Homo sapiens: one gene and its partners. The protein of the gene in region 3 purifies or fractionates together with the protein of the main gene of each other region. This does not show direct contact. Each region holds a gene or a part of one and is shown on either strand. Other genes may lie near its edges.

The links. Proteins that work in one complex are often made in the same cells at the same time.
Region 1: the proteins of TRIM66 (region 3) and C16orf96 purify together in Homo sapiens (affinity purification with mass spectrometry, with the first as the bait; one large-scale study listed by BioGRID). This does not show direct contact.
Region 2: the proteins of TRIM66 (region 3) and GCDH purify together in Homo sapiens (affinity purification with mass spectrometry, with the first as the bait; one large-scale study listed by BioGRID). This does not show direct contact.
Region 4: the proteins of TRIM66 (region 3) and ASPM purify together in Homo sapiens (affinity purification with mass spectrometry, with the first as the bait; one large-scale study listed by BioGRID). This does not show direct contact.

What each region holds. Positions count from the first base shown.
Region 1 is NC_000016.10:4,555,097-4,559,139, reverse strand, and holds the start of C16orf96 (uncharacterized protein C16orf96), read right to left. Parts: upstream 2,801-4,043; 5' UTR 2,651-2,800; coding exon 2,231-2,650; intron 1-2,230.
Region 2 is NC_000019.10:12,894,160-12,897,329, reverse strand, and holds part of GCDH (glutaryl-CoA dehydrogenase, mitochondrial isoform a precursor), read right to left. Parts: exon of another isoform or gene 2,419-3,170; intron 1,339-2,418; coding exon 1,209-1,338; intron 1,126-1,208; coding exon 909-1,125; intron 421-908; coding exon 317-420; intron 28-316; coding exon 1-27. UniProt on the Homo sapiens protein: Catalyzes the oxidative decarboxylation of glutaryl-CoA to crotonyl-CoA and CO(2) in the degradative pathway of L-lysine, L-hydroxylysine, and L-tryptophan metabolism. It uses electron transfer flavoprotein as its electron acceptor. Isoform Short is inactive.
Region 3 is NC_000011.10:8,676,166-8,679,665, forward strand, and holds part of TRIM66 (tripartite motif-containing protein 66), read right to left. Parts: 5' UTR 3,455-3,500; intron 2,005-3,454; exon of another isoform or gene 1,969-2,004; intron 1-1,968. UniProt on the Homo sapiens protein: May function as transcription repressor; The repressive effects are mediated, at least in part, by recruitment of deacetylase activity. May play a role as negative regulator of postmeiotic genes acting through CBX3 complex formation and centromere association.
Region 4 is NC_000001.11:197,094,670-197,098,169, forward strand, and holds part of ASPM (abnormal spindle-like microcephaly-associated protein), read right to left. Parts: intron 1,496-3,500; coding exon 1,329-1,495; intron 1-1,328. UniProt on the Homo sapiens protein: Involved in mitotic spindle regulation and coordination of mitotic processes.

The DNA.
Region 1 (4,043 bases), on a different chromosome or scaffold from region 3:
GGACATGCTGCCTCCAGGGATAGGAAGGCAGTCATCGCTGGATGGTCTCCTTTTTGGAGACAAGACTTTCTCCGTCACCCAGGCTGAAGGGCAGTGGTGCGATCTCAACTCACTGCAACACCTGCCTTCCAGGCTCAAGTGATTCTCCTGCCTCAGCCTCCCGAGTAGCTGGGATTACAGGTGCCTGCTACCACACCTGGCTAATTTTTTTTTTTTTTTTTTTTTTGAGACAGAGTCTCGCTCTGTCACCAGGCTGGAATGCAGTGGTGCGATCTCGGCTCACTGCAAGTTCCGCCTCCTGGGTTCAAGCGATTCTCCTGCCTCAGCCTCCCGAGTAGCTGGGACTACAGGCGCACGCAAGCATGCCCAGCTAATTTTTGTATTTTTAGTAGAGACAGGGTTTCACCATGTTGGCCAGGATTGTCTCGAACTCCTCACCTCAGGTGATCCACCCACCTTGGCCTCCCGAAATGCTGGGATTACAGGTGTGCGCCACTGTGCCTGGCCAAATTATTATTACTATTTTTAGACACAGGGGCTTGCTCTGTCCCCCAGGCTGGAGTTCAGGAGAGTGACTACAACTCACTGCAGCTTCCAACTCCTGGGGTTAAGTGATTCTCCCACCTCAGCCTCCTGAGGTAAGACTACAGGTGGACGCCACCACACCCGGCTAATTTATTCATTTTTTTATAGAGATGAGGTCTCACTACGCTGCCAAGGCTGGTCTTGAACTCCTGGGCTCAAGTGATCATCCCGCCTTGGCCTCCCAGTGTTGGGATTATAGGTGTGAGCCACTGTGCTCGGCTTATTTTCCCTTTCTTATTTCTTCTTGGGCTGCCAGTAACTGAACACTGTCCACGTGCTGGTCGGGGTTAGCAGGGGTCAGCAGTCAAAGGTGAGCCAGGGTCAGAGGCCACGCCTCAGCGCGCAGCTCCCTTGCCCACCAGCTGCTGGGCCTTCAGCCAATCACTGAGCTCCTCTGAGCGTCAGTTTCCTCTTCTGTAAGGCAGAAGGAATGCCTCTTTGCTGCTCCTCACAGGGCTGGTTCTTGGAGATTCTCACTCACTTGTGTCTATCTCCCCTGCTAGGCCGGGCGTGCCTGTTCACCGTGACTACTCTGGTACTTCTCCCATGGTAGCTCCTCCAGGCATTTTTTAGAAATTGGGGTAAGGCTGAGCACAGTAGCTCACGCTTCTAATCCCAGCACTTTGGGAGGCCAAAGCAGGAGGATCACTTGAGCCTAGGAGTTTGAGTCCAGCCTGGGCAACATAAGGAGACCCTATCTCTACAAACAATACAAAAATTAGCCAGGTGCAGTGGTGCACACCTGTGGTCCCAGTTACTCGGGAGGTTGAGGTGGGAGGATTGCTTGAGTCTGGGAGGTCGAGGCTACAGTGAGCCATGACTGAGTCACTGCACTCCAGCCTGGATGACAGAGTGACACCCTGTCTCAAAAAAAAATTGGGGTGAAATTCACATAATGTACAATTAGCCATTTTTAAGTGAACAATTCAGTGTCATTTAGTACATCAGTGAGGTTGTATAACTACCACCTCCATCTAGTTCCAAAACATTTTCATCACCCCAAAAGGAAACCCTATATCCACAAAGCAATTACTCCCCATTCTCTCCTCCTCCAAGCCCCTGGCAACCACTGCTTTCTGTCTCCATGGATTTACCTATTCTGGACATTTCGTATAAATGGAATCATACACTGGGTAGCCTTTTGTGTCTGGCTTCTTTGCAATACTTGATGGAGGCTGCAAGCTTGGCGTTTTGGTTGTGCCTGACTCTAAAGCACCCTTCTTCCCACTCTGCATAAGGAGATGGCCCATCGTAGGTGAGTAAGCAACAAGATGTCCCAGGAGAAGGCTGGGCGCAGTGGCTCACGCTTGTCATCCCAGCACTTTAGGAAGCCGAGGCAGGTGGATCAGTTGAGATCAGGGGTTTGAGACCAGCCTGGCCAACATAGTGAAACCCCATCTCTACTAAAAATACAAAAATTAGCCGGGTGTGGTGGCATGTGCCTGAAATCCTAGCTACTAGGGAGGCTGAGGCAGGAGAATCACTTGAACCCGGGAGGCGGAGGTTGCAGTGAGCCAAGATCACACCACTGCACTCCAGCCTGGGTGACAGAGCGAGACGGAGTCTCAAAAACAAAAAAAAGACGTCCCAGGAGAGAGCCAGTGGTGAAGGGAGGAAAAGAAGTGTCTGGAGGCTGGGGGCGTACCTTGGCCATGACTTCATCATGACCCTCCACCATCTTCCGGAGCTTGATCAGATGCCACAGGTCCTGGACGGGCCGGGCAGTGCCCTGGCTGGCTTCCAGCAGCTGGGCAGTGGAGGGCAGGTCCTGCAGCAGGGCCAGCTGGTTCTCCAACTTGTCGAGGCGGCTCACCACGTGGTCGAAGACATTGCTGAGCCTCTTCATGGGGTTGAGGATAGGCTGGGCGTCTCCTTCCCTGGGCATGATGACCACCTGCGAGGTCTGCAGGAAGTCCTCATCGCCTGAGAGGACTTTCTTGAGCTCGGCCATGTGGATGTGCTCCAAGATGCCGTGCAGCAGGAGGTGCAGGGCCTTGAAGTTCAGCACCCCGCACTGTGGGATGGCGATGTTGGCCAGCTCGGTGAACGTGAGTGAGAAGCTCATCCTGCCAGGGTGGGTCAGTGGGGCTGGGGTTCCAGGTGTCCTCAAGGACAAGGGGTAGCTTTCAGTGGTTCCGAGAGCTACATGGACTGGTCCTCAGAGGCCTGGGGTGGTGGTGAGTCACAGCAGTCAGGGAGGAATGGCCTCTGTTCTGGCTGGAGCTCAGATCAGAGTCTCTGGTTGCCAGGACACCAAAGAATGTGATGAAACGGGCGCAATTCAAAGTCTGGAGTGGGGCAGGTGCTCCCTGGTAAGCCTCACCCAGAGTAGGTGCTCAGTTAATATTGGATGAATGTTTGAATAGCTGATGGCAGCCTCTTCATTCAAGCCCTCTGGTGATGTGAGACTGGTAACTTTTTCCTAGAAGCACATATGGAAGGGATGGAGAGGCAGCTCCCTCCTTGGAATTTTCTCGAATCCGGGCAGAAGACAGGTTTCTTGGAGTTAGGAAGACCCAGGTTTTACAAAGAGATAAGAATCTGAAGTACTGGCTGGGTGGGTGTGGGGGTTCAGGCCTGTAATCCCAGCACTTTGGGGAGGCAAAGGCGGGAGGACTGCTTGAAGCCAGGAGTTCGAGAGCAGCCTGGGCAACATAGTGAGACCCTGTTTCTACAAAAAAAAATTTGTAATTAGCTGGATGTGCTGGCGCACATCTGTAGTCCCAGCTACTCAGGAGGATGGGGTGGGAGGATTGCTTGAAGCCAGGAGTTTGAGGCTACAGTGAGCTATGATTGTGCCACTGCACTTAGCCTGGGCAACAGAGTGAGACCTTGCCTCAAAAAAAAAAAAAAAAAGAAAAGAAAAGAAAAAGAAAAGAGAAAAGGCCGGGCACAGTGGCTGACATATGTAATCCCAGCACTCTGGGAGGCCAAGGCGGGTGGACCACGGGGTCAGGAATTCAAGACTAGCCTGGCCAAGACGGTGAAACTCCGCCTCTACTAAAAATACAAAAATCAGCCAGGCGTGGTGGCACGTGCCTGTAATCCCAGCTACTCTGGAGGCTGAGGCAGAGAATTGCTTAAATCCGGGAGGTGGAGGTTTCAGTGAGCCAAGATCGTGCCACTGCACTCCAGCCTGGGCGACAGAGCGAGACTCCGTCTCAAAAGAAAAAAAAAAGAATCTGAAGAACTACATTCATTTCTGGACGCATCCAAAGGCCCCCCACAGTGTTCCATTTTCTCGTGTGTGTGTGTGTGTGTGTGTGTGTGTGTGTGTGTGTGTGTAGTGTGTGTGACAAAGTCTTTCTCTGTTACCCAGGCAGGAGTGCAGTGGCGCGATCTCCGCTCACTGCAACCTCCGCCTCCTGGGTTCAAGCGATTCTCCTGCCTCAGCCTCCTGAGTAGCTGGGATCACAGGCGCCTGCCACCACGCCCAGCTAATTTTTATATTTTTAGTG
Region 2 (3,170 bases), on a different chromosome or scaffold from region 3:
CTGGCCAGTGGGACACCAAACTGCATCCTACATGGGCAATGGCAGGGTAAGAGCGAGGGGAGGCCCACTCTCCCACCCCGTCCCTGTCCTGGGGCCCCCTGCTCCAGGACGCCTTCCCAGGCTGCCTCAGTGCCCCCAAGCTTGCCCTGGCCCTGCCGTTGACTCAGCCCACAGCTGCTCAGAAGGACGTCACTGGTCATTCCAGAGCAAGGAACTCAGGCCTGGTGGGTGGGGGCTGGGGAGTCACCCATGGTATAGAGAGTGAAACCCAAGCTGCCCCACACCCCCAGAGAATCTCACTGCAGCCCTCACACACCTGTCGAGGGCGTACTGCCGGGCTGTGTGCAAGCAGAACTCCGAAGCTCCAAGCACGCCCCACGCGATGCCGTACCGGGCGTTGTTCAGGCAGCCGAAGGGACCCTGTAGGGTTGAGATGGCGCCTCAGGCCCACCCAAGAGACACCAAGAGGGCCTATGCAGAACCAACTCTGAAGCAGGGAAAGCCTCCTCCCCAGCCACCCCACGCAGGGGGACTCAGGTTGTGGTTCACATCACAGATGGCCCTGGCACTGAAGCTCGGTGCCTGCTCACTCGGTTTGCACACAGTCCCACCCAGCCTGGCATCTGGGTTCGATGCTCAGAGCCAGGAGGCTGACGGATGCCAGAAGATGCACTGTGAGTCAAATGACTGAGCTGGTTCAGGCCCATGTGTCCCGGGCAGAGCCGGGATGAGCGAGACGGTCACCAAATGGGGGCAGTTTTCAGCACGTCAGCGAGTCCGGCTGAGTAAGAATCACCACTGTGTGGGCTCCACAGGCACAGGGAGCCGCGTCCCCAGCACGGAGCCTGCCTGACAAAGCCGCATCCGCAGGTGACCCAACACCCATTCCCAAAGTGGCTGCCACTTACCCCCAGGCTGGATGCACCAGGGAGCACATTCTCCTCTGGCACCTCCACACCGTCCATGATGATCATGCCTGTGGCTGAGGCCCGCAGCGAGAACTTGCCCTGGATCCTGGGGGCCGAGAGACCCCGCATCCCCTTCTCCAGCAGGAAGCCCCGAATGCAGCCATCTTCACACCGAGCCCACACTACAAACAGATCGGCCATAGGCGAGTTCGTGATCCTGGGGATGGAACAGTCGGTGAGGGGTCTGACCAGTGCCCCTTTGCCCCTGTTCACCACCTGCCCACCACCCAGAACCCTTACCAGGTCTTGGTCCCATTGAGGGTGTAGCTCTTGTTGGATGAGTTGTAGTGGGCTCTGGTCTCCATGCTGCTGGGGTCACTTCCGCTGTTGGGCTCTGTGAGCCCGAAGCAGCCCAGGAGCTCCCCCTTGGCTGCAGGCACAAGACAAAGTCACAAGGCTGCCTGGTCCCTGATACATCCCCTTACTCAAAAATTATCCTCGTGGCGGGGTGCAGTGGCTCACGCCTGTCATCCCAGCACTTTAGGAGGCCAAGGCAGGTGGATCAATTGAGGTCAGGAGTTCCAGACCAGCCTGGCCAACATGGTGAAACCCCATCTCTACTTAAAAAAAAAAAAAAAAAAAAATAGCCAGATGTGGTGGTGGGTGCCTGTAATCCCAGCTACTCAGGAGACTGAGGCAGGAGAATCGCTTGAACCCGGGCAGGAGAGGTTGCAGTGAGCCAAGATCATGCCACTGCACTACAGCCTGGGCAACAGAGCAAGACTCCATCTCAAAAAAGAAAAAAAATCCAGCCTGACCAATATGGTGAAACCCCATCTCTACTAAAAATACAAAAAATTAGGCCAGTCGAGGTGGCTCACACATGTAATCTCAGCACTTTGGGAGGCCAAGGCAGATGGATCACTTGAGGTCTGGAGTTCGAGACCAGCCTGGCCAACATAGTGAAACACCATCTCTACTAAAAATACAAAAATTAGCCAGGCACGGGTAGCAAGCACCTGCAATCCCAGCTAATTGGGAGGCCGAGGCACAGGAATTGCTTGAACTGGGGAACCGCAGGTTGCAGTGAGCCAAGATTGTACCACTGCACTTCAGCCTGGGGGACGGAGCGGGACTTTGTCTCAAAAAAAGAAAAAAAAAATTACCCTCGCCCCTGAGTCAGACCTCATAACTAAGTTAGATCTGGCCCTGCTTTCAAGAGACAGGTTACCCCAAAGTCATGATCACAATGCCAAGATGGGGAGGGGGACCCAGGGAATCAGGAAGGAGTTGGCCAAACTGGAAGGGTGTGAGGAGTTAAGCAGGAGGAGGCTGTGGGGAAGAGCAGTGCTGGGAGAGGGAACAGATGTGTAAAGAACTGGTGGTACTTCTGGAGAATTTCAAGTAGCTAAGTCTGGCTGGGAGGATCACATGAGTGGCCAGAGATGAGGTGGAAAGGTCAGCAGAGGCCTGGTCACACAGGGCCTTGTGGGTTTTTTTTTTTTTTTGCGAATCTGATCTTATTTGTTACTCAAAAAATCTTATTTCTGACTGGATTCAGACTTAGAAGTGGAAGCTCGCAGAGAGGACAGTCTGCGTCTCTTCACGATTTGTCCCTGGTGCTTCTTAGCCTCCTTCATTCTCTTGGCCAAAAGTTTAGCATATTCTGCAGCCTCTTCTTTATTTTTCTTAATATGCGGCTGCTTCAGAGCAATACGCCGCTGTTTGTGCTGCAGGACATGTGGAGTGACAAGGCGCTGAATCTTGGGTGCTTTGGTCCTAGGTTTCTTACCTTCTTTGTTTAAGGGCTTTTTTACAACATACTGGCAGACATCATTTTCTTTAGAGAGACTGAAAAGTTTACGGATTCTGCTAGCTGTACTGGGCCCCAGGTGACGAGGCATCATAGTCTCAGTCAGTCCAGGAATACCCTTCTCTCCTTTTTTTTACAATAACCAAGTTGAGAACACTCAGATTGGCATCCACGATGCAACCATGAACTGATCTTCTCTTTCTTTCTCCAGTTCTCCTTGGTCTGTAATAGGAATGCCCCTTACTCAGTAGCAAGTGGACACGGCCATGGGTCAAGACACCCTGTTTCAAGGGGAAACCTTGTTTATTGTTCCCACCACTGATTCCGACCACGTAACCCTTCCATTCTTCACCCAGAGCGTCAACAGCAACTTCTGTGGCCATACGCTTCTCATAAAAAGTACAAAGTTTGCGTTCATCGTCCACTTCAATGAGTTTCTGGCAGCCAGT
Region 3 (3,500 bases):
TTTCAGGATTGAGATTTAATAAAAATTGTTACCACTTCATCATGGATGGACATTCTTAAGGTAAACTTCTTTTTTTTTTTTTTAACCGGCAGATGCTTAGTGGTAAAGAATATAAGGTTTTGTTCCAGTTTGGTGCCCAAAACATCAGCAGTTTTACATAACATTGCTTTGGCACCATCAGTGCAAATGTCAACCCAGTGAAAAGATCAAATAACACGTTAGCTTTATTATTAAAATTGTTTGACCTGTGAACTCCCTGAAACGGTCTCAGGGACCCCCCACCCCATAAGGTCTACAGACCACACTTGGAGAACTACTGCATTAGACCTTGCATCACAATCCTGGGAATTCAGGGAGGTAGCATGGCTTTCCACCACCAGCAAGTACTACACAGGGTAAGAATATAAAGAAACAGGCATCTCATTTATGTCTTAGAAGAGCAATTGAAGTAACTCCATGAAAGTAAATGGTTAATTTAAAGGCACAGCCACACAATGAGTTTCTGATTTGAGAAGACGAAGGGTCAAATGACCCCATTTCTGCCCCCTTCTTATGGCTGCTTTCATCATAACTTAGTTCTTCCCTCTCCTTCTTATCTCCCCTGACCTAGAAGAGTGTAGGGGACAGAGTTTGCAAGACTGTACTTAAGCCAAGGTAGTAAATTCAAATGCCTACAGGGGCTGGGCAATCTATATGAACGAAGTGCTTTACTTAAAAGAATGTGGGTCTAATGTCTCCAAATCTTAGTTTTCCAAAACCCAGGAAATTATTTTTATTTACATTTTAAAATGTTAACAAAAAGTTAAATTTTAAAACATTGCCTTGCCACAAACCACCTCCTTTTAACATCTTACCACATCTATATCTAAGAAAAGGAAAATATTTACTGGAGTACCTTAACCTTGCTAAGGAATGATGGAACAAGTCATTCCACATCACATTGGGAATAAGAATTTCAAAGATTGTTTGCATGAAGGGTACAGAACAAATTATCATAAAAATAACACTCATTTTAGGGAGAAAATGTGAGCGAGAAATAGTAGGTAATGAGAGTACCTACTCTTTGCTAGGCTGTGTTATATGTGATATATTATTTGTTTGCTTGTTTAATGTATGTCTTAGACATAGTCTTAGGGAAGGACTTTTGTTCACAATTGTACCTGCCCCTCACTTGCCTGGCACCTAGCATAGGAACATAGTACACACTCAATTAATATTTATAAAACGAATGAATGAATCTCATTATTTTTTCATTATACAGACAAGAAAACAGATTCAAAGAGAACATGCTATTTGTTCAATATAATTCAGTGAGTAAAAACAGAACTAGGAGGCTGGGCGTGATGGTCATGCCTGTAATCCCAGTGCTTTGGGAGGGCGAGGTAGGAGGGCTGCTTGAGGCTAGCAGTTTGAGACCAGCCTGGGCAACATACAAGACCTTATCTTTAAAAACAACAACAAAAAAAACAGAACTAGGAAATGAACCCAACTTTCTGTGTTCTTTCCATTAATTTTATCCTCTGAAATTAAAGTAAAACCCAAATATGTAACTCCTTTTTTCTGCTATTGTATAAGCTGTTCTCAAAGACTCTAGAATTTCTCTTTTCACGTTTTGTTACTCTGAGTTTAATGGCAACAAGGTTTTCCACCCTAGTTTCCAATAAAGCTTTAGGAATGTAATTGCCATGTAGAACACTCTATCCAACACAGGAAAGAAAGACTCCTAAAAATTCCTAATCTTCCAATTAGATTATTTTTACTTTGTGCTGAAGAAAACCTCGCCTGATCCTATGGATTTCCCCTAAATGCCATATATCAAAAACTACCGATAAAGGCAAACAAAAACCCCCAAGGCTAGGGAGGTTAAAATGAAACTGGAAACTGTACATATTGCTGGTGAATAAATTGGTACGATCCTTTTGGAAAAAATACATAGTAACATAAAATGAATCACAAAAATGTTCATACCATATAATCCAGCAGTCTCACTTCTGGGAATTTATCCTAGACAAGTTATTCAACAGGAGAAGAAAAAATTATATACAAATGCTCATTCCATCATTGTCTCTAACAGCAAAGAATACAATAAGAATTTTTTAAAAAAACAAAATACACAAGAAAGTGGCTTAATAAAAGATAGCACATGCTGAAAATAAATTATTCTTCAGCTGTTAAAAATAATCATGAAGACTGGGTAGTGATACGAAAAACTGCCATGGTATTAAATAAAAAGAATACAAAAGGATTTGTATACTATGATCACTAACTTTGCAGACAGCTATGTCTCCATGTATACAAGGGTTGAAAGGTAATACTCAGAAAAGAAAATGGCATCACAGGGTGGAATGATTTGAGTTGCTTATACTTATATTTTTTTCAGAATTTTCTTTACTGTTGTACTGTCTATTACGTATAATTTTTCAAGTCTTTCTGAAGTAAATTGGGATTTCTGAGCTTTTCTCTAATTCTCACTTGGAAAAAAAGCAGAAACACTGCTTCTTCCCATCTTGATTAACAGTGCTCTACTTAAAAAAGAAAACGAACATATTTCCAAATGTCCACATCTAAAGATGGAGAGCAAGAAAACAGAGCTGGATTCATTCAGGATGTTGCTGCTATCTGAAGGACTGATGTCGAATTCAGGAACCCAGTGAGGAGAGAAAGGAAGAGGGATCACCAGGGCCTTCTTCAGGGTGATGATGTGTTCCCAAGGCCACCTGGAGAGAGGCCTGGGGCAGCAAAAAATCAGCACACTTGCCTGCCTCACCAGGCTGCTGTCTGGTATCATCTCTTCCGTTCATTTCTGAGGTATTTTCTGAGGCCCTCACACTCTGAGGAAGCCCAGATGCCTGAGATGTCACAAAGCCATGCTGTACTTCAGAAGAGATGTCACAGAGAAGGACACCCCTCAGGAGTCATGGCCAAAGGTCATGTCCCATGTGCCTAGCTGGGAGGGACAGGTCCCCTAATGCCAAATATCTGGCTGCTACTCCACTTTGCAGACAGAAAACTCAGCTTTGTCTGCTCTCTCAGACCTCTGTCAACCTAGGAAAAGTGACACACACTGAACAAACACCACATGAGCTGTGTGTTTAAGTCATGTGGTTGCCTTTTGAAGGAGAGGGAGCTGGATAGAAAACTGGATTGAGCCAGACAACTACCCAGGGTACTCCCTCTACAACCAGATCAAGCCATTGATGAGAAGAATGTTAGGTGAACACAGAACCCAACGGGTAGTGCTGGGTCCACTCTGGGAGGCCTTCTGTTCAGCCGCGTGACCTGAGGGACAGAACGTAGCTCCTCTATAACCAAGGAACCTGGCAAACTATCCAAGAGGAGTGTCTTAGCACCCAGAACCCTACCTCAACCCCTTGCAGTGGTGGTCCTTATTGTAGGCCCCAGCTCTAATACCACTGATGGTTCCCTTTCATTCCCAAGGCCCTGCCCAGCTTACCTCCATTGACAGATCATCTTCCCAAGGTTAGGTTCCAGGTAACCCA
Region 4 (3,500 bases), on a different chromosome or scaffold from region 3:
TTCGTAAACAGAACTGGAGAAAAATTTTAAAAAATCTGAGCACTAGAGATTAAATTTTAGGGATCAACATAATACTAAGAGATAAAATGTGAGAATGGACAGGTTTTCTACTCTGTTCTTGATAATGTGGAAAAAGTACAATGAGTAGCTTGTTTTGTTGCCATGTTTCTTAGAAAATAGGACCAAACACCATTGAGAAAAATTCAGCATCTGTTACAGGAAAATTAGATACTGGTCCTTAATAGCTGATAGTAGCAACTGTATCTTTATATGCTTTTTAATTTTTATTTTTATGGATATATAATAGTTGTAAATATTTACAGAGTACATGTGATATTTTGATTCAAGCACACAATGAGTAATGATCAAATCAGGGTAAATGGGATATCCATCACCTCGAACATTTATCATTTCCTTCTATTAGGAAACTTCTAATTCTATTCCTCTAGTTATTTTGAAATATACAATAAATTATTGTTAACTATAGTTGCCCTATTGTGCTACTAAACAGTAAATCTTATTCCTTCTCACTGTATTTTTGTACCCATTAACCAGCCTGTCGTTATCCACCCCTCCCCTCTCCCTATCCTAGCCTCTGGTAACCAACATTCTACTTCTATCTTCATGCGATCAACTGTATATGTTAAGCCCTGCTTCTACCCATGGGCTTCATCCAAAAATTCCTCTCACACTAGTGTGCCTTCCTAAACCATCTTTAAAACCATCATTGATTCAATAATTCATCAACTCTGGGAGCTGAAGAAAAATTCTTATACTATGAACTTAAAAAAAGATGATCTGGTAACAGCTTCTGAAAATGTGTGTGTGAGAAATAAGCTAGGAATAGTGAAATACAATTAGCATAGACAGGTTGGTAATTAGGGTCTTCATCATTAATGACAAAGAGTATGAGGAATAATACAAAGTTCAAAGAAAAAAAGAATGAGTAAGAAAACAAATTTTGCCAGTAGTTAAGTCACCCAGCAAAATGGCCCAAAGCACTAATAAGAAAACCAAGTCTTAACTAAATGATTTTATTCACTTCCTACGTCTCTGTCCTTACTCTAATCCTTATGAACCTGAATTAATCAAGTATATAATATTTTTAGATTATATTAATTAAAGGCTATGCTCTATCTCAAAAAAGCAAGACAGTACGAGAGATGTATTTTGTTTCCTTAATAAAGAAAATATCAACAAAACCAACCATATAAATTAAGCATAACAAATATTTAAAATAAAAATCAATAAGCAGTGTTATTTTATGTAAAGACTTAGCTATCACACACAAATACTTTTACACTCTCCACAGAACTATGATACATTACCGTGTTCTCTCTAGTTTGGTATAGAAGCAACCTTGAATAATTTTAACAGCTTTTAATATAGCTAGATATTCTTTGTGTGCTCTCCAACATCTATACCAGGCTTGAATCTTGCAGGCAGCTTTCACTTTACATAAATATTTCTTGGCTCTATATCTCCTCCACATAGCCTATTAAATACATAAATATAACAAGTATGCAATGAGTTGTCTCTTTTTTTTTGTAAATAAGACAAATCAGTATAAAGACAGTTAAAATAAGGTTAGTGCAGACAAAAATAAATTGCATAGTCATATCATGACTCTTTTAGACTTTGACATGTAATGAGTCTTCTGAGAACAGTGGTGCTTACTATAGTGAACACGTATTATGTGCTTTATCACACATACCTTATGGCTGGCTGCCAGCCCAGCCTAACAAAACCCTAACCAGTATTTATAAATTGTAAGACACACATGTCTGAAAAGCCCCACATTATGTAAATTATCCTCATCACCTCAATCCATTTGGAAGAAAAGAAAATGAACACATTGACCTACTGCAGGTTCTGGGGAGAAAGAGGAATTCTTCCCAATCCATATTCACTTTGGGTTCTGTGTTCAGCCTGCAGGAGAATCCTGAGAGCTCCTGTGATAGGACTGTCAGACTTTCTGATTTTGACAACCTTCTGGAAGACTAAAGGTTTACATGACAGCTACAACTTATTGAACTAAGCACTAAGAAGATTAGTCCTTAATAATCACATGGGTAGATAATACTATTATCTCTAATTTAGAGATGAGGAAATCAAGGCCTAGAGAAATTGAGTAACTTGTTGATGTCACACAGGTTAATAAGTGGCAGAGTTGTCTTACTTAATATTTATAAATATCTTATAAAATGGTTAAGATCTCTGTTTTATAAAAAAGGAAAAAAATCCAAAATTGAAATTAAGAAGGACTTGTTAGCATATAGCTGTTAAGTGACAGAGTCAAGATTTGAACCCAAGTCTATTTGACTCCAACATCCCTACAGGAAGAGGAATTAAAAGAAATTAAAGACTGTGTAAGCAAAAACTCAGTTGTATGTAAGAAAACCCAATTCCCCTTGGGAAGAGAAAGGGCTGGAGTCCTTTAAAATTAACTGTGTTTTTCTCTCTGTGGCTAGTGAGCCTTATCTCTCCCTTTCCCAGGCATTGTGAAGACTGTTTCTCTAGCTGTGCAGCTGCAAGGACACTAGACAGATAATCTCAAGTTGTAAAACATGTTGTTCCTTAAAAAGTAAGAAATAATGTAATGCATCTCTTACTTGAATAACTGTCTTTGTTTCTCTCTTCTGTAATACGCTTCCCCCTGCACAGATCTCCCCATGCCCCACGAAATGCTTAAAAGGTAGCTTGACTCTTTGTTCAGGGCTCAGTCCTCTTTGGATGTTAATCCGACTGGGTCGGTGCACATAAATAATTAAATAATTCCTCCTCAAATCCCTCGGTCTCTCTGATTCCTTAATTATCCCGCAGCACAACAAATACTATAGGCACAACGTATATTTAGATTAGGTTCTAAATTCAGTTGATAATGCAATAATTATATATGGCCAAAATTACTCTGAGATGACCTTAACTCATTCAGACTATATTGTATACGGTTTTTATGTAAATCTGCATACATTATTTATGTATATCCCCAATACCTGCCACCTCAGTCTTAATCAGTGGTAGAAGAATGGTCTCAGAACTGTTTGTTTCAATTGGCCATTTAACTGTAACAGTAAAAGACTGGTTAATGGTAACACTGCATCATAAAACCTTCAGGAGGAAAGGAGAATGTTTTGTGGACCATTTTGGTGTTTTTGTTTTTGTTTTGCTTGTGGCAGTTATAAGTTACTAGTTTTTAAAATCAGTACTTTTTAATGAAAACAAATTGACCGAAAATCTGTCACAGAATTTTGAGACCCATTAAAACAAAGTTTTAATGAGAAAATTATATATATGTATAGATATACGTGTGTGTATATATATATTTACAAATATATATATATATACACACACACACATCACACCTGAAGAACATCAAAATTTACAGACATTGACAAGAGAAGCCAACATAGCGTTAAGAGGGAAAGAAGACAGCTAAGAGATTATGGTATCAAGAAACCAAGGGTTGAGAGAAGAAACAAAGTGTGCTTAAATCCCAA